Regions from separate parts of the Homo sapiens genome. Here region 2 is linked to region 1. The links come from fine-mapping of genetic effects on gene expression. Tissue or cell type: monocytes. Region 1 holds a variant in brackets; the other region holds the start of a gene. All regions are shown on one strand. Distances are from middle to middle.

What was found. PIP is the estimated chance that this variant, and not a neighbour inherited with it, causes the effect.
Region 2: GFI1B starts here. The variant in region 1 is fine-mapped to the expression of GFI1B in monocytes (TOPMed, PIP above 0.99). The same link has a PIP of 0.9 or more in non-classical monocytes.

The regions. Positions count from the first base shown.
Region 1 is chr9:132,999,067-133,007,811 of GRCh38, forward strand. No RefSeq gene overlaps it. Among named protein-coding and RNA genes, the nearest start is that of SNORD141A, 17 kb to the right of the region's middle. RefSeq lists cis regulatory regions at 1-662, 4,761-5,712, 5,180-5,197 and enhancers at 1,824-2,324, 4,160-5,033, 5,117-5,261, 5,136-5,430, 5,908-6,779. The variant C/T (reference allele first, on the strand shown) is at 4,685.
Region 2 is chr9:132,974,680-132,983,424 of GRCh38, forward strand. GFI1B (growth factor independent 1B transcriptional repressor) reads left to right here and starts at 4,015. Exons shown (of 7, transcript NM_001377304.1): 1 at 4,015-4,162.

The DNA.
Region 1 (8,745 bases):
GCTGGGGCAGGGCCTCCAAGGTAGGTAGAGTGACAGCCTGGTTTGGGAACAGTGGGGTGGACACTGGACCTGTGACTTCTCACAGGGTCCCCAGCTCTTCCTCTGGTCTGGGTCAGGGGCTGTCCGGGACCACCTCCATGGGTGTCTAGCTGGAGTTGGGCCTGGCCCGGAGACAGGCAGGACCCAGGGTTCCCGGGGGATGGGGGCTGCAGGGATGCTGCGGGAGGGAAATCTGAGGCAGGGCATGTTCCGACCCGGCATGCTCAGGTTTGGCCTGATAAGTTTATCGCACGGTGCCGGCTGCCAACCGTCGGTGTGGAGTAGAACCATGGGCCAAGCAGGAGGGCACTCCTGAGCCGATAGCGCCTTCCAAGTGTTATCAGGGGCCTGGTGGCCCAGAGAGCGGGAGAAAGGGACCAGAGGAGGGAGAGAGAGAGAGAGTGAGGGAGAGAGACAGACACAGACAGAGAGAGAGAAAGAGAGAGAGAGAGAGACTTCCACCCACTTCACTCAAAGGACAAGCTGGGGAGGAAGAGGCCTCCGAGGTTCCTCAGGGGTCCTTGACGTCCCAGCCTTGAGCCACTGCAGTGGGGAATCAGCCCCGGGCAGGCACAGGCTGAAGACCCCATCAAACCCAGGCATAGCCTTCCAGATCACCAGACAATGCTGCCACTACTCAGCTCTTCCGCAAGACCTAGGGAAAAAACTCCCTTTCCTGGAAGGTCCTGGGGCTCCAGGATGCACGTGGAAATCCCTGGGAGCAGGAGGGCCAGGCAGCCGGGGGCTGCTTCTTTAATTACTTGAACCCCATTCCATCCCACCCCAACCCTTTTCCTCCCTAACCCCAAGCCCCAAGGCCTCGGGTGAGAGTCAGGCTCAGGTTATCTTTTGTGAGTCCCTCTGGGGTGTCCAGCCTGGCACTTGTCTCCATCCAGGGAGGCACGGCTTTCCAACATTACACCCCTCCTCATGACTGGGGAAACTGAGTCTGAGAGTGAGCAGGAGAGCAGGCAGGGGGGCAAGGACCCAGGAGACCAGGAGGAAGAAGAGCAGGAAGAGAAGGGAAAGCTGGGAGGTTCCACGCCCACCCTGAGGTCTGGAGGTCCGACAAGTGCTTCGTGATCTGCAAGGAAAAGTCGCACATGAGGCAATGCCTCCCAGCCCTAAGTGCAGCCACAGGGCAGCCTGGTCCTCAGCTGTGCACAGCCACCTGGCGGGGGGAGGCAGGCGCCGGCATCCACAGGGTTATCTTTGTGGGGTGGATTTTTAAGTCCTTTTGTTTGTTTGTTTTTGTTTTGTTTTGTTGAGATGGAGTCTCACTCTGTCACCCAGGCTGGAGTGCAATGGCGTGATCTTGGCTCACTGCAGCCTCCACCTCCTGGGTTCAAGCGATTCTCCTGCCTCAGCCTCCCTGGGTAGCTGGGATTACAGGTACCCACTGCCATGCCTGGCTAATTTTTGTACTTTTAGTAGAGATGGGGTTTCACCGTGTTGGTCAGGCTGGTCTCAAACTCCTAACCTCAAGTGATCCACCTGCCTCGGCCTCCCAAAGTGCTGGGATTACAGATATGAGCCACCACGCCCACCTAAGTCCCTTTTATATACATATATACAGTTTTCCGTGGTTTCTATAACAACAATGTTTTGGGGGAGGGCGTGGGGAAAGAAAGGTGATTTGTTCATTTGTTTTAAGAGGCAGAGAAGGAAAAGGCATTGCTACCAAGGCTCTCTGACCTGGTGGGAACGGTCCCAGCCCAGGATCAGTCTGTAGGTGCCCACCTCTGCCAGCCTGGGGTGCAAGCAGAGGGCCATGCCAGTGTCTGCAGAGCCAGCAGTGTGTCCCCTGGAGTCATGTATGAGAGACTGCACCCAGGACCCTCACAGAGGCACAAAGACCACCCTGACAGGTCAGAAATCTTTCATTCATCAACTCCTATATCTATCGAGTGCCTGCCACAGGTGGTGAGGATCGGGCCGAGGGGAAAACAGACGAAATCCCCGCCCTCTTGGAGCTCAGCGGGGATGCAGAGACTAAACAAAGCCAGGAGAAACAGAATGCAGAGAAGCCGGGCGTGGTGGCCCGTGCCTGTAATCCCTGCACTTGGGAGGCAGAAAGGGGTGGATCACCTGAGGTCAGGAGTTCGAGACCAGCCTGACCAACATGGCGAAAACCCATAACTATTAAAAATACAAAAATTAGGCCAGGTGCGGTGGCTCACACTTGTCATCCCAGCACTTTGGGAGGCTGAGGCAGGCGGATCACCTGAGGTCGGGAGTTCGAGACCAGCCTGACCAACATGGAGAAACCCTGTCTCTACTAAAAATACAAAATTAGCCTGGCATGGTGGTGCATGCCTGTAATCCCAGCTACTCGGGAGGCTGAGGCAGGAGAATCACTTGAACCCAGGAGGCAGAGGTTGCGGTGAGCTGAGATCGTGCCATTGCACTCCAGCCTGGGCAACAAGAGTGAAACCCCATCTCAAAAAAAAAAAAAAAAAAAAAAGTTAGCAGGGCGTGGTAGCCGGTGCCTGTAATCCCAGCTACTCTGGGGGCTGAGGCAGGAGAATCACTTGAACCTGTGAGGCAGAGGTTGCAGTGAGCTGAGATCGTGCCACTGCCATCCAGCCTGGGTGACAGAGTGAGACTCTGTCTCAAAAAAAAAAAAAAAAAAAGAAAGGTGTGGGGGTGTTGATGACGTGGAGATCACCAAGTTAGATGGGTGGCCAGAGAGACCTCATTAAGAAGCACTGAGTTTCCCTGCACAAGAGAGGGGGTTGTGGAAGGACAGCCCTGGATGGAGTCAGGAGACCGAGGGATGTCACTCTGCTTGGCTGGGTGGCTTTGGTCAGACACTGCCCTCTGGGCCTCAGTTTCTTTTTCTTTTCTTTTCTTTCTTTCTTTAAAATTTTTTGTTTGTTTGTTTGTTTGTTGAGAGAGGATCTCACTCTGTCACCCAGGCTGGAGTGCAGGGGCATGATCACAGCTCACTGCAGCCTCAACCTCCTGGGCTCAAGTGATCCTCCCACCTCAGCCTCCCGAGTAGCTGAGAGTACAGGCATGTGCCAACATAACCAGCTAATTTTTGTATTAGACAGGGTTTAGCCATGTTGCCAGCCTGGGCTCATACTCCTGGGCTCAAGCAATCTGCCCACCTCAGCCTCTCAAAGTGCTGGGATTACAGGTGTGAGCCACTTCGCTCAGCCAGTTTCTTTTTCTTTTTTTTGTGCAGACAAGGTCTCACTGTGTTGCCCAGACTTGTCTTGAACTCCTGGCTTCAAGCCATCCTGCTGCCTTGGCTTCCAGAATAGCTGGGACCACAGGTACTCACCACCACTCCAGGCTAATTTTGTACTTTTTGTAGTGATGAGGTCTCACTCTGTTGCCTAGTTAGTCCTGGCTTCAAATGATCCTCCTGCCTCAGCCTCCTGTAGACACCTCTTGACTCCCAACCTCTGCTCTTTCTGTCCCCTCTACCCAAGTGGCTCTTTTCCTCCTACCGATTTGCTCAGCTCTCTCCTAACTGTCCTGGGCACAGCTCAAGCCTCACCTCCTCCGGATGCCTTCCCAGGCAGTTCTCTTCCCTCTGACACGTTTGTGGCACGATCACAGCACTTTCCTGTGAACGCTGTGAATGGCTCAGGGTGCGGGGTAGGCACACAATAAATGTAGTTGTTATTTCATTGCCAAAAGCTCTGACCTTGGAGCCCAGGTTCTGGGCTGGACCTGCAGGGCCACAGGTCCTCCCAGTCTGGGGTTGGGGAGCAGGTGGGGAGCAGGTGGGCCCCCCCATGCTGTGATGAGCTGAATCCTGCTGCACTCCTCGGCTGTCCCTGCCGACAGCTGGAGCTACAGACACCAGGCTGAAGCCCAGAGCTATTTCTGCCAAGGGTGACTTGGAACTTCCTCCCGGATCTCTTAAAAATAGAGGGGTTATCGTGGCCGTCAGGCCCCTTCCTCCACATGGGGAACTCGAACATGATTTCTGGGGAAGGCCTAAGCCCCAGGCCTCTCTCAGCCCAGCAAGGACTTATCTCTGAGCTCAGCTGGGCAGCAGGAAGGGAGCGAAGCGACCACCGTGGGCAGCTCTTCCTGCCCCAGGAGCCCCTTTTGGGAGCAGCAAGGGATGTGGCCACTGACTCAGGGGTGTCAATCACCCATCTTCCCCGGAGCTGCGGTTGCCCACCGGACTCTGAGGGGAATCAGAAGTCAGTCGCGTAGAGAGCATCCTGGGGAAGCCTCAGGCACCGTCCGGCCTGGCCTTTCTGCTCCAAGCCCTCCCCCTGCGCCCAGCACGACCCCATCTCTGTACACTACCATGAGATCACTGGTGGACAGCTGTCTCTACTGTGTGGCCAGCCCCAGCAGAGGCTGAGGGTCGGGCACCTGGAGGTCAGGCTGGGGTCTACCACTCCCAGCAGCTGGGTCCTCTCTGCAACAGAGGGCATTCCTGGGGGCCAGCCCAGCTCCTCTGGGGATTTCTTCCCACTTTGTAGACCCCAGACTTAGTGCCAATAGAAGACCACTTCTCGCAGGGTACAAAGTCTGTTCAACAAGTATTTGCTGGGCGTCCACTCTGGGCAGGGCCTTGGCAAGACCCAGGAGAGGAGACGCTGTGGGGGGTCTGGAGGCCCAAGGGGGTTACTAAGCCCAGCCCTGGGGTTAAGGGAAGTCTAATGAGGGAAGT[C/T]GACATTTGCAAGACAAAAAGAATTTGATCTGTTGGAAGTGCAGAGGGCTGCCCCAAGCCAAGAAAACAGCGGGGCACAAAGCCCTGGGGGAGACAAGAGGCCTCCCCTGCCCCCAGCTCTTGCCCAACCTGTTAGGGAGCAGTGCTCTAGCCAGCGCCTTCTCAGGGCTTCAGGAGGCCAGTGTGCAAAGCAAGGGTGACCTAGTGGGGTCCTGGGGGCTATCCTGTTGGGGCTTGGCAGCCAGCCACATGCATCTTTGGTCATTGCCACGGTCACGGTCCCTGCCTTCCCATCCCTGCTGGCTCGTGGGATGTCTACGGGGCTTGCCTGGCACCCCCGGCCCTCCTCTGCACTCCTCAGGAAGGAAGGTTCAGGATCCCTGAGCTCAGCCTCCCCAAGGCAGCTCTTTAGAAGCCTACAATCTTAGCTGGAAACCGTCACGGTTAAGGGTTTCCTCCCGGTGGCTCCCCAGCGCCCCTCAGCCCGGCCTGAGACTTATCACTGCCCCCCAGCTGGTGCCCCCCTCCTCCTCCAACCACCTCACCCTGGGTGATTCAGCAAATCTTCCCTCCATGAGGGGAAAAACAAGAGTGAAAAATCACAATGTCAGATTACAAAGCCCTAACTGTAGGGCAGGCCCCTGGCAGGGAGATAAGGGTCTCATTCCCCACCCTCAAAGCCTCTCTGGCAGATAAACCTCCTAGAGCAGCATGGGCTGCACTGCTGCAGGTGTGGGGTGGGGAGGCCTGGCCTCACGGAAGTCTGGTCAGGGGACACAGGGCCCTGCCAGGAGCTGAGGGCCCACAGCTCGGCCACTGTGCAGAGCTGGCCAAAGAGGAAGTGCCACGGCCAGCATTGATGTTGCCATCCCAACAACTGCCTTGGAGGGAAAAAGAGAAGGGCAGGGCCTTCTGAGAAAGTTCAATGACAGGATGCCCCACAAATGCCCTTCACCCTGGGGTGTCCCTCTGCCAGCTCAGCCTGCAAACCATGATCCCTTGTACGACTGCAGCCCAGCTGTGTTGCAGAAGTAAAGGTGTCTGCCCCCATGAAGCCAGCCCAGAGGAGGGAGGAGCTGGGATGCCATTCCTGGGAGGGGGGCCTCCTCTGGGGAGGCCTGGGTGGACTTGAAGGCAGCTCAGCCTCATCTGCCCTAGAGACCTTGCCAGGAGAAATCCTGGGTCTCCAAGCCAGGAGATCTGCTAGGCTGGGAGACCTGCCCTGGGAGCCACTTGTCAGCAGGGGACCCTGTGATTGTGGGGATGAGGCTGGGGGTAGGAAGGGGCGGTCACTAGGCTTCCTCTGCTGGTGGAGGACAATGAAATGATGGCTTTGAAGCTGAACTCTGTGCTGGGCCCTGGTGCTCTAAGCAAGTCATTTCTCTACTTTTTAGCCCCGTATGCTGTCTGTAAAGTGAGATAAGAAAACCCACCCGCAGGGCTGTCCTGGGGAGTCCAGGTGCATGCCAAGCAGGAGTGGCACAGGTCCTGGTCTCTGTTTCCCAGGGTTGGGGACCAGCATCTGGCTGGAATGGGGGTGGCTTTGGGATAAGTGCCTGCATAGCTCTTGGTATCCAGGGCCAAGGGTCCAGCTGCCCAGCATTCTAAAGACTCTCCATTGTCTGGGGAAGCTCTCTGAGGTCATTTCCCACAACACCATGGGATGGCTGCGGTGGGCTAGGGAAAGGAGGGTGTGCAGCAGGCACATAAACTTTCTAGAGTAGTGTGGGTTGCACCACTGCAGGCATGAGGTGGGGCGCCCCGGTGTCACAAAAGTCCGATCAGGGGACATATGGTCCTGCCAGGAGCTAAGGGCCCAGAGCTTGGCCACCGTGCAGAGAGCTGGGCGAAGAGGAAGCGCCGCAGCCAGTGGACTTGGTTCCACTCAGCTGCAAAAGGAAGAGAGTTGGTCAAGACGACGTCTGCAGTCCCTTCACTATAAAATTTTGCAAAATACAAACTGCTCAGTGGGTGTGTAGTTGGCCGAAGGTACTCCACCAAAGAGGTACCAAAAGCTGGTGGGCTTCAAAGCAGCATCGTCCCCAGCAGCCAAAAAGTGGGCACCCCAAGTGTCCATCCACAGATGATGGGTAAACAAAACGGGGCCTGTCCATGCTAGGAAATATGACTTGGCCATCAAAGGGAATGGAGCTCTGACACATGCCACACGTGGACCTTGAGGACATCATGCTGAGTGAAACAGGCCAGTCACAAAAGCACAAGCACAGGATGATTCCACTTATATGAGGTCCCTAGAGTAGTCAAATTCATCGAAAGTAGAATGGTGGCTGGCAGGATCTGGGGGAGGGGAGTGGGGAGTTAGTGTCTAATGGGTACAGAGCTTCAGTTTGGGAAAAGTTCTGGTGTTGGCTGGTGGTGATGATTGCACAACAATGTGAATGTACCCAATGCCACTGAACTGTACACTTAGAAATAGTTAAGAAGGTAAAATTTATTAAGTATATTTTAGTAACCCCTCCCCCCGCCCCCGCCAAAAAAAAAAAGCCCATGTGCACAGTGGTCTCTGCTGAATGAAGACTTGAAAACCAGAGCCCAGCCCTAAACAGCTCATGCATAGTCCAGGCAGAGAAACAGAGCAGGTAATGCCCCCTCAACTGATGGCAGACGGGCCAGGGAGCCCTGCTCTGGGCTGGAGCAGGGAGGCACCTTCAGGGTTGTGGGAGATCTGCAGGGAGAGCCACTTCTCCCTAGGGGTGGGTGTCTGAGCAACAGCACCAGAATCCCAGCGACATTCTCTCCTTCCTCCTTCCAGACTGGCTTTGCCTGCCTCTGAGGCTCTGGGAATGCTGTTCCCTCCACTTGGAAGGCAGTTTCCTCACTTCACCAATTCTTTATCTTCGTCATCCCAAACCCAACCCACATGCACCCCACAAGAAAACCTCCCCTTGCCAGTTATAGACTCTCAAATCCCCCAGAAATTCTGCCCTCTGATGTTGATCATAATTGTCATGAAATAGCTATTTGTGTCATTGTGTGACACGTTCTATGAAATTCTCCATTGCTTCCCCAGTACTCATTAAGGAAATGCTTTTTGTCAGATGGACAGATGGATGGTTGGGTGAGTGGATGGATGGATGAATGATGGATGGATGGATGGTTGGATGGATGGATGGAAGCATGGATAGATGGATGGATGGGTGGATGGATGGATGGTGGATGTGTGGATGGATGGATGGATGAACAGATGGGTGGATGGATGGATGGATGGATGGATGGATGGTTGGATGGATGGATGGATGGATGGTGGATGTGTGGATGGATGAATGGATGAACAGATGGGTGGATGGATGGATGGATGGATGCATGGATGGATGGATGGATGGATGGACGGATGGACGGATGGATGGACAGATGGATGGATGGATGGATGGGTGGGTGGATGGATGATAGGTGGATGGATGGATGGATGGATGGATGGTGGTTGGGTGGATGGATGGTGGATGGGTGGATGGATGGACAATGGGTGGATGGATAGGCAAGCAAACTGAAGGGTCTACCCACCCAAAGGGGCCAATGCATGGAGTGCCTAGGCCTGGATAACAGGGTGCAAGTATACGTGTGAATGGGTGCTTTCGAGTCTTTTGCCTAGAACCATGAATTACAGTTCAGGCCCACTGTCAGTCCTACCTGACACTGTGTGGACTGTGGACCTGTCTGAGAACGGCTTCCTGGATCTAGAGGTTTGGCTGAAGGACAGCACTCACCATCTCCTGGGAGGATGAGCTCTCAATCTGATCTGATCTGATTGGCTTGGAGGACCCATCCCAGATGGCACCATCCAACTGTACCTAGCACTTGCTGTGACCTGGGCTGGCACTAGCTGAGCACTTCCCATAGAATAGCAGGAGCTACTTTTCCCTGTTTTACAGACATGGAAACTGAGGCACGCATTTGCCCAAGGTTTGACTGAACTTTAAAGGACCTCTTCCCCAAGGCTTTTTAATCCCAAGGTAAACCCTTCCCAAGGAATCAAGGGGTCAGGGATGGACCTGTGGCCCACTCTCCTCTACAGATCCCCTAAAACAGACAGCAAGTTCCCA
Region 2 (8,745 bases), 24 kb before region 1:
GTGAAGGAATAGAAAGTGACTGGGGTGGGGAGGTCCTACTTTAGTTGAAGGTCAAGGAGGTCTTTCTGCAGAAGTAACATTTCCGCTAAGACCTGGATGACAAGAAGGAGACAGGCTTGGGGAAATCAGAGAGTTAGGCCATCCAGGCAGAGGGCACGAGAAGTGCCAATGACCTGAATGAGTGAGATTCCAGACAGTATCATTTGAGCATCTGGATCCAACCATGTCAGAAGCTGAAAATTTTCTGTGACATGAATTAATTGTTTCATTGTTATTATTAAATGAGTTTAAATTGTGTTTCTGTACTGGGCACGGTGGCATGCACCTGTAATCCCAGCTACTCAGGAGCTTGGGAGGATTGCTTGAGACCAGGAGTTCAAGACCAGCCTGGGCTACAGAGCAAGACCCCATCTTTTTGAAACTTCCTGCAACTCGCATCTGGAAAAGTGCTGTTATTTGAAAGGGTGCCGACATTGTGAAAAACACGGAGTATTGATCTCTGAAGCTGAGATTTTTGTCCTAAAGGTAAAGGGAAATTATTGAAGGTTTTTAAACCAGGGAAGAATCTTCCTGATCTTTGTTCTTTTTCTTTCTCTAGGCTCAGCTCTCAAAAGTCCTAACCTTCCCTCCCCTTCCTTCAGTCTGCGTTTCTTCCCTAATGAACTTGGCTGCTGTCAGCTCCCTTCAGGGGACCTCCAGCTCTTAGCACAATGCTGTTCTTCTTTGAGACACTTTTCCCTACCTTCCTTCTCCCAACTAACTTAGCCTAGGCATCAACTTAGATATCACTTCCTTCACCAACCCCCCCAAGCCTGGGTCCATTTCCAAATGCCCCAGGCTTCTTTTGTATACTATGTTTATATCACAGCACTTGTCACCCCAAATTGTAAATTTCAGGTTGCTCTTTCCTACCCTCTAGACCAGGAAGGAATATGAAAAGTCCGGCTGTTTTTTGAAACCCCAGCATGTGGTGCCTTGTTGTGGGCACTCGATACACATGTGTTACATAAGGGAGGGAAGGAAAGAGCTGATACACGAAAGGTACCTAATGGTAACTGTTAAATGAATGAATAAACTGATGAATGGGCATGGGAATGCGGAAGCGATTTAGCTCTTGGGAGAGACTAAATGAAGGTGTTGACTCCAGGGCTGCTCACTAAGGGAAGTGCTGGTAGCTTTACAGGCAGCCCTGGAGGGGACACAGAGCATGGGAAGTCCAGGGCTGTAAGGGCCTGGGTGAGGCTGGCTGGGGACTCCTGGCTTCAACTGCTATGCCAGGGGACTGGCTGCCTGGCCACTGCTCTCCCATCAAGGGGAACCTGGGTGGCTTCATCTGCAGGCTGGGTCCCTGGTCTGGGTCTGGGAAGGCTGTCCCTGTGTCAGTTACTCACGGGGGAAGGTAGGGACCCTAAAGTGGGATTACAATCTTAGAACAGCAGTTGAACTGCATGTGCCTGATACAGCCGCTTCCTATTAGAAAACACCCTAAACAAGTGGAGGAAGCGTTTGGTGAGATAAACCATGAAACCATTAAAGATTTAATGGTGAAACCATTAAAGATGTCAATAAAGGCTGCAAACGAACTTAGGAAGCACTTCCATAAAATCATGTTTCACGGAAAATGACACGCTGGTTTACAGTAGCAAAATGTGTGTATGTGTGTATAGGGAAGTGAGAACATGAGGAAACTGGGGACTTGTTGACTTGGAGAGAATATTTTAAGTTTTCTGCATAATGACAAGCAGTTCTAGCTGATTGTTGGCAATGTACAACACCCACAGAATACTCAAGATGTGTCCCTGGCTGGGCACAGCAGCTCGTGCCTGTAATCCCAGCACTTTGGGAGGCTGAGGCAGGAGGATCGCTTGAGGCCAGGAGTTCAAGACCAGCCTATTGTGAATAGTACCACTATAAATGTAAGTGTGCAAATATCTCTTCGATTCTGCTTCCAGTGATTTTGAGTCTATACCCAGAAGTAGATTCACTCACTTTTGACATTGCATTCTCTGAATTTTAGAGGAGACATTTGAGAACTTCTAAATTTCAAATAAAAATAATGATTTAGACCAGACTGGACAGCATAGCAAGACCCCATCTCTAAAAAAAATAAAAAAATTAACCAGGCATGGTGGTGCGCCTGTAGTCCCAGCCACTCAAGAGGCTGAAGCAGGAGGATCTCTTGAGCCAGGGAGGTCGAGGCTGCAGTGAGCTATGATTGCAACACTGCACTCCAGTCTGGGCTACAAAGCCAACTCCTGTCTCTAAGAAAATAATAATAATAATAATAATTTTCTTGAGACAGAATTTTGCTCTTGTTGCCCAGGCTGAAGTGCAATGGTGCGATCTGGACTCACCGCAACCTCTGCCTTCTGGGTTCAAGCAATTATCCTGCCTCAGCCTCCTAAGTGGCTGAGATTACAGGCATGTGCCACCACACCCAGCTAATTTTGTATTTTTTGTAGAGATGGGGTTTCTCCATGTTGGTCAGGCTGGTCTTGAACTCCCGATCTCAAGTGATCCTCGCCTGCCTCGGCCTCTCAAAGTGCTGGGATTACAGGCGTGAACCACTGTGCCCAGCCAATAATAATTTTTTAAAAAGATGTTTCTTTCCACCAAGAGAGACCACAGAGCTGGGAGCAGTGGTCTGCTGTCTGTAGCCTGGGGCTGGGACTGACACCCCAGCATTACTGAGGCCTGGTGACCACAGGGTTGTGTCCTCCTGGCTGGTGCTCCAGGGCTGGCCCAGCAGAAAGACCTCGCCTGAAACACCCCTTTTTCTTCATTTTGAACCTTGGACTTGCAGTTTAAATTGGGGCTTCCTGTCACCAGACTTGTTTTCTTTATGAGGGAAACATAATATCTCCAGCACCCGGGCTGGAAGAGCAGACAAAGCAGCCTAACAGTGCTCTGTTTGTGGCGTTCTCATCTTATGCAAAACCTCCTGAAATAAATCAGTCATCCTGCAAGCGGGAGGAGGCGGGGGCCAGAGGAGGAGGGAGAAGGTGGGGAGCCAGGGGATGGGACGCCCTGCCAAATGGGAAGAAATGCCCCAGCCAGCTCAGCCAAGCTTTACCGCCCTCACTCCCCCCAGCATCAATGGGACACCCCAGAGGCCCCCACTGGCCTCCCCATCACTTTGTCTGCCACCAGAGGGCAGCACACACGGGCTCTGGCACCTGGCCTTCAATCTGTATGGCAGCTTCAGCAGGCCGAGCGTCTCCTGGCCTCCGAACTCACTGCCACACCTCCAGGGTGCCTCTACCCGCTCAAAGGTCATATCTGGGGGAAATGCAAATTTGATGTCTCTTCTGAGATATGACCTCTGCAAGGACAAGAGGGGCCTCTATGCATGTGGCCGGCTCGGGTACTAGGGGCATTGCACCAGCCTGGCTCTCACAAGCCTCAGGGTGCTGAACTTGGGGAGGGAGGGAGGGGAGGAGGCAGCGAGGAGGGAGGCAGGGAAAAAAGGAGGGAGGAAAGGAGGGAAGAGAGAGAGAGGAGAGGAGGAGAAGGAGGGAGGGAGGGAAGGAAAGAAGGAGGGAGGAAGAAGGAAAATAAGGAAGGGAAGGAAGGAGGCAGGGAGGGAGGAAGAAAGAAAGGAGGAAGAGAAGGAAGGAAAAAGGAGGGAAGGAGGGAAGGAAGAAAAAAGGCAAGAGAAAAGAAAGAAGAAAAAAACCAAAGAGCAATGACTTCCCTATGCAAAATCGAGTTTTATAAGTTAGAGCTTTTTCTAACTTTAATTTTTAAAATTTAATAATTTAGCCATCACTTTCTTTTTGTGCAGATGTTATTCAAAATTTCCAGCGAAATTCTGAATTTCTCTGCAGAGAGAAAGCGTGCCGCTCCAAGTGTCGAGGGTTAGAAATGAGAATTCGAAGTCTTGTGTCCTGGAAAGTTTTGATAAGCAAATACGGCTGAGCTCCCGCGCTCTCTTCATTGGCTGCTTGTTCACCGCCAGATTTTGACACAAATAATCAGATTGAAAATCAGGGAGGGGAACAGAAGAGGAAAAACACACAGAGAGACAGAGCAAAAAGGAGAAGTATCTATTTGTGCAAAGAGTCACACAGTTGACAGAGTGGAGGCCAGTCCCGAGAGAGGCTTTGCAGTTCCCACCTCGGGAAGCTCCGGCAGAACCCAGGCGAGGGACAGCTCCGGACAGGTGAGTGCTGGAGGATGCGTTTCTACGCTTTTGTTTTGAAATGTGCCTGTGCGCCGCAGGTGGCTTCACAGCAGGCTCCCTGGCTCCTCCTGCGGTCCTAGGAAAGGTGAGGTGGGCTGGAAAAGCTCTGGAAGGCAAGGAGCCAAGGGAGAAACAGGGTGAGGACGTAGCCTCGTCTGAGCCACTGTGCTAGGAATTGCGCCTTTGCCGGCTGCGCAGAAACACTTTTCAAAATTTGATTTTAGGCTGACAGACGTCACCTTCGGGCACAAAGTCATACCCACAACCCAGCTGTCCTGGGGACCTGGGCAGTGCTCAGGGAGACACACTTCCAAGTGCCTGAGTTGTGTTCCCCCTCGGAGACAGTCCCAGACTTTAGGGACTTGACTAAAGTTCCTGGGACACTTTTTTTTTTTTTTTTTTTTTTTTTTTTGAGACAGAGTGAGACTCTGGAGCGCAGTGGTGCGATTGCACTGAAACCTCTGCCTCCCGAATTCAAGCGATTCTCCTGCCTCAGCCTCCCAAGTAGCTGGGATTACAGGCGCGTGTTACCACGCCTGGCTAATTTTTGTATTTTTAGTAGAGACGGGTTTCACCATGTTGGCCAGGCTGGTCTCGAACTCTTGACCTCAAACGATCCACCTGCCTCAGCCTCCCAAAGTGTTGGGATTACAGGCATTAGCCACTGCGCCCAGCCAAATTCCCAGGACACTTTGAGAGTCAGGCGCTCTCCCCTCCAGAGCCTACTAAGGGGAGATGACAGGGCTGCCCTCTCCCACACACTGCCCAGGCTCCAGGAACAATAGGACCGACCATGGAGAGGTACTGTTTCAGCTCGCCTTTCCCTGTGGCTGTTGTTAGCCCTTTCCACCTATTTTTGGAGAAAAAAAACCAAGTTTAAGTGTTGAGGCATCTGAGGAGACATGCTCACTCTAAAACAGGACTTGTGAAGAGGAGGTCTGCAGAATCGCCGTGGGTATGTGCCCGTGTACATTTTTCCGGGGAGAAAGTCCAGAGCTTTCACGAGTTCTTAGGGAGTAAATTCGATTACAATCTGTGGGCATGAGTCTGGTAGATATTAGAAGCCAGCTGAGCTGCACCTGACCGCCTGGACGCGCCTGCATGTTTCTTAGTAGGCAACAGGCAGAATATTTCTTCCAAGTCTAGCAAAGTGTCAAGTTTCTTGTCCTCGGAAGTATTGCAGAAGGAATTCTTTGGACAAGAAAATGCGTAATTCCCCTTGCTCTTTCTGTCAGAGTTTGGTCTTCCTGAAGAGAGTTCTTGGGGAACATTGGAGAGCTATACCTGGTTTCGGTTTGATTAATGGAATCACTCAAAACCAGCGCAGACCATTGCCCCGAAGCTTTCAGCGGGGCAGGGTAGGGTGGGTGGGAATCTTATTGGACAGTACAAGGATTTTCAAAGGCTCTGGGACCAGATGGCTCCAGATCACCCAGGGAAAACAGCCTGATCAAATGGGATTCTTCACTGTCTGTGCCACAATATCCAGACCCTTGGTTGAAACATCAGCAAACACCACCCCCTCTTAGTCTAGAGGGAGGCTTTTCGTGTGTTCCTTGCCAGGAATTCAAGCCAATGGGAGCTGCTTTAGTCTATAATATAGAGATATGCAGAAAGAGTTTCATTCACTCACTTGTCTTTTTATTTTGATAAAATACATATAACATAAAATTTCCCGTTTTAGCCATTTTCAAGCGTACCATTCAATGGTATTAAGTACACCCACATGGCTGTGCAACCATCACCACCATCCATCCACAGAACTGTTTCATCTCATAAAGCTGAAACTTCATACCTATTACACAGTAACTTCCATTCCCTTCCCCTCACCTCTGGCAACCTCTATCTATTTCTGTCTCTATGAAATTGCCTATTTTAGGGACTCATATAAGGAATCACACAGTATTTGTCCTTTTGTGATTGGCTTATTTCACTTAGCATAAATCCTTCAGGTTCATCCATGTTGTAGCATGCGCCAGCATTTCCTTCCTTTTTAAGGCCGAATAATGTTCAATCATATGTCTAGACCACATTTTGTTTGTTTGTTTGTTTGTTTGAGACAGAGTCTCTGTCACAAAGCTGGAGTGCCATGGTGCGATCTTGGCTCACTGCAACCTCTGCCTCCCGGGTTCAAGCGATTCTCCTGCCTCAGCCTCCTGGGTAGCTGGGATTACAGGCACCCACCACCATGCCTGGCTGATTTTTGTATTTCTAGTAGAGGTGGGGTTTCGCCATTTTGGCCAGGCTTGTCTTGGAACTCCTGACCTCAGGTGATCTGCCCACCTCGGCCTCCCACAGTGCTGGGATTACAGGTGTGAGCCACTAAGTCTGGCCATAGACCACATGTTGTTTGGACATTCATCTGCCATGAAACCTGGGTTGCTTCCACTTTTTGCCTATTGTGAATAGTGCTGCTATAAACATGAGTATGCAGATATCTCTTTGAGTCTCCCCTTCCAATGATTTTGGGTCTATACCCAGAAGTAGATTCACTCACTTTTGACATTGCATTCTCTGAGCTTTGGAGGAGACATTTGAGAACTCCTTCTAAATTTCAAATAAAAATGATGATTTAGACCGGCCTGGGCAACATGGCAAAACCCCGTCTCTACAAAAAATACAAAAATTAGCCAACTGTGGTGGTGCATGCCTGTAGTCCCAGCTACTCGAGAAGCTAAGATGGGAGGATCGCTTGGGCCTGGGAGGTGGAGGTTACAGTGGGCCAAGATCAAACCACTGCACTCCAGCCCAGGTGACAGAGTGAGACTCTGTCTCAAAATAATAATAATAATGATGGTGATGATGATGATGATTACTTTCTGCTGGGGCCCCTGGGCCTGACCTGGGCTCATTTTCCCCCGACTCCTCCACGGACAAGTCTTGTTTTCCCCTTGAATCTTTTTTTTTTTTGACAGAGTCTCGCTGTGTCACCCAGGCTGGAGTGCAGTGGCGCCATCTGGGCTCACCGCAACCTCCGCCTTCTGGGTTCAAGTGATTCTCCAGCCTCAGCCTCCCGAGTAGCTGGGATTACAGGTGCCTGCCACCACACCCAGCTAAGTTTTGTATTTTTAGTAGAGACGGGGTTTCCCCATGTTGGCCAGGCTGGTCTTGAACTCCTGACTTCAGGTGATCCGCCTGCCTTGGCCTCCCAAAGTGCTGGGATTACAGGCGTGAGCCACCACGCCCGGCCTCCCTTGAGTCTTTAAACATAAAGGAAGTCAAAAAGGTTCTCTGTAGCTGACCCTGAGAACCAGCTGAGTCTTACCCAACCCTCCCAAAAGGGGAACCCGAGTGACAAGTCTTTTAGTCAAGGTGGTTCAATCTCTCACTGAAGGTCAACGAATTCTACATGGGATTTTAGAGCAAAAGGGAAGTTTAGAAATCTCTTAGCCCAACCGTCCCTTTTAAGAGATAGGAAAACCAAGCCCCAGGTTGGTGGCTGATGCGGTCACAAGCTCCAGGACCCCAAATCAGACTCAACTCCTTGGGCAACAAAGGGGCCTCATTACAGGGACATCACAGGCCTGTTGACCCAAGTCCAACTGGAAGTTAGGGTGCTGGCTCCTGCCAGGGTGCAGGGTCGCCTGTCTTCAAGAAGCACTGACTGAGATTCTGACTCAGGGTCAGGGGGACTCTATCAGGATCGGGGGTTATGGAGTGATAACAGTGAGCCTCTTTCCGGAGGTCCGATACCATCAAGTCCTCTGTTTTATGAAGAATTCCTGAGCTTCTTTCATAATCTCTGCTCTTAGCTCCTTCTCAGAACGGAGTTCATGTCAATCAAAACCAAGTGGTTGTTAATTAACTACAGTATAGGTGATTGGTTCCTGTTTTTTCTTTAAAAAAAAAACAACTCTGCTAACAGGGGCCAAAAGGAAGTTCACCGGGTGCATTTGGCCCCTCTGTGAGCCAGAGGGCTTGGCCGTGGCGTTGGCTGTGTCACTGTCACTTGCCAAGCTCAGGGGAGAGAACACTGGGGGGAGGCAAGAAAGCGGGTGTGGGGCTCAGGGGAGATCACTAGAAGAAGCATGAGAATCACCTTCCTGAGGCTGGAGAACCCCAGAAGCCAGCCCCATCTTGCCCTGTGCCTAAGTGAAAAGTGCTTGGCCAGGGCTCATGAGCGCTAGAAAGTGTCCTTGTTGTGGGGCCCAGGGTTAGAGTCAGTTGACCTGGGTTCTCCTTAGGCCCTGAGCCCAGGAGAATACCAATGCTTCCTGAAGGGAAGTCTGTCCCTGGCCTGGCCCCACCAAGACTCTTCAGGAGCCATGTGGGTCTTTTAGGAGCCTGGAAAAGACTTGAGGGTCAGAGGGTTTGATTTTTCTCCCTCCTTTTTTTTTTTTTTTTTTTTTGAGACAGAGTGTGGCTCTGTCACCCAGGCTGAAGTGCAGTGGTGGTGTGATCTCGGCTCACTGCAACCTCCGCCTCCCGGGTTCAAGCGATTCTCCTGCCTCAGCCTCCTGAGTAGCTGGAACTGTAGGCAAGTGCCACCATGCCCGGCTAATTTTTGTATTTTTTGTAGAGACGAGGTTTCACTGTGTTGGCTAGGCTGGTCTCGAACTCCT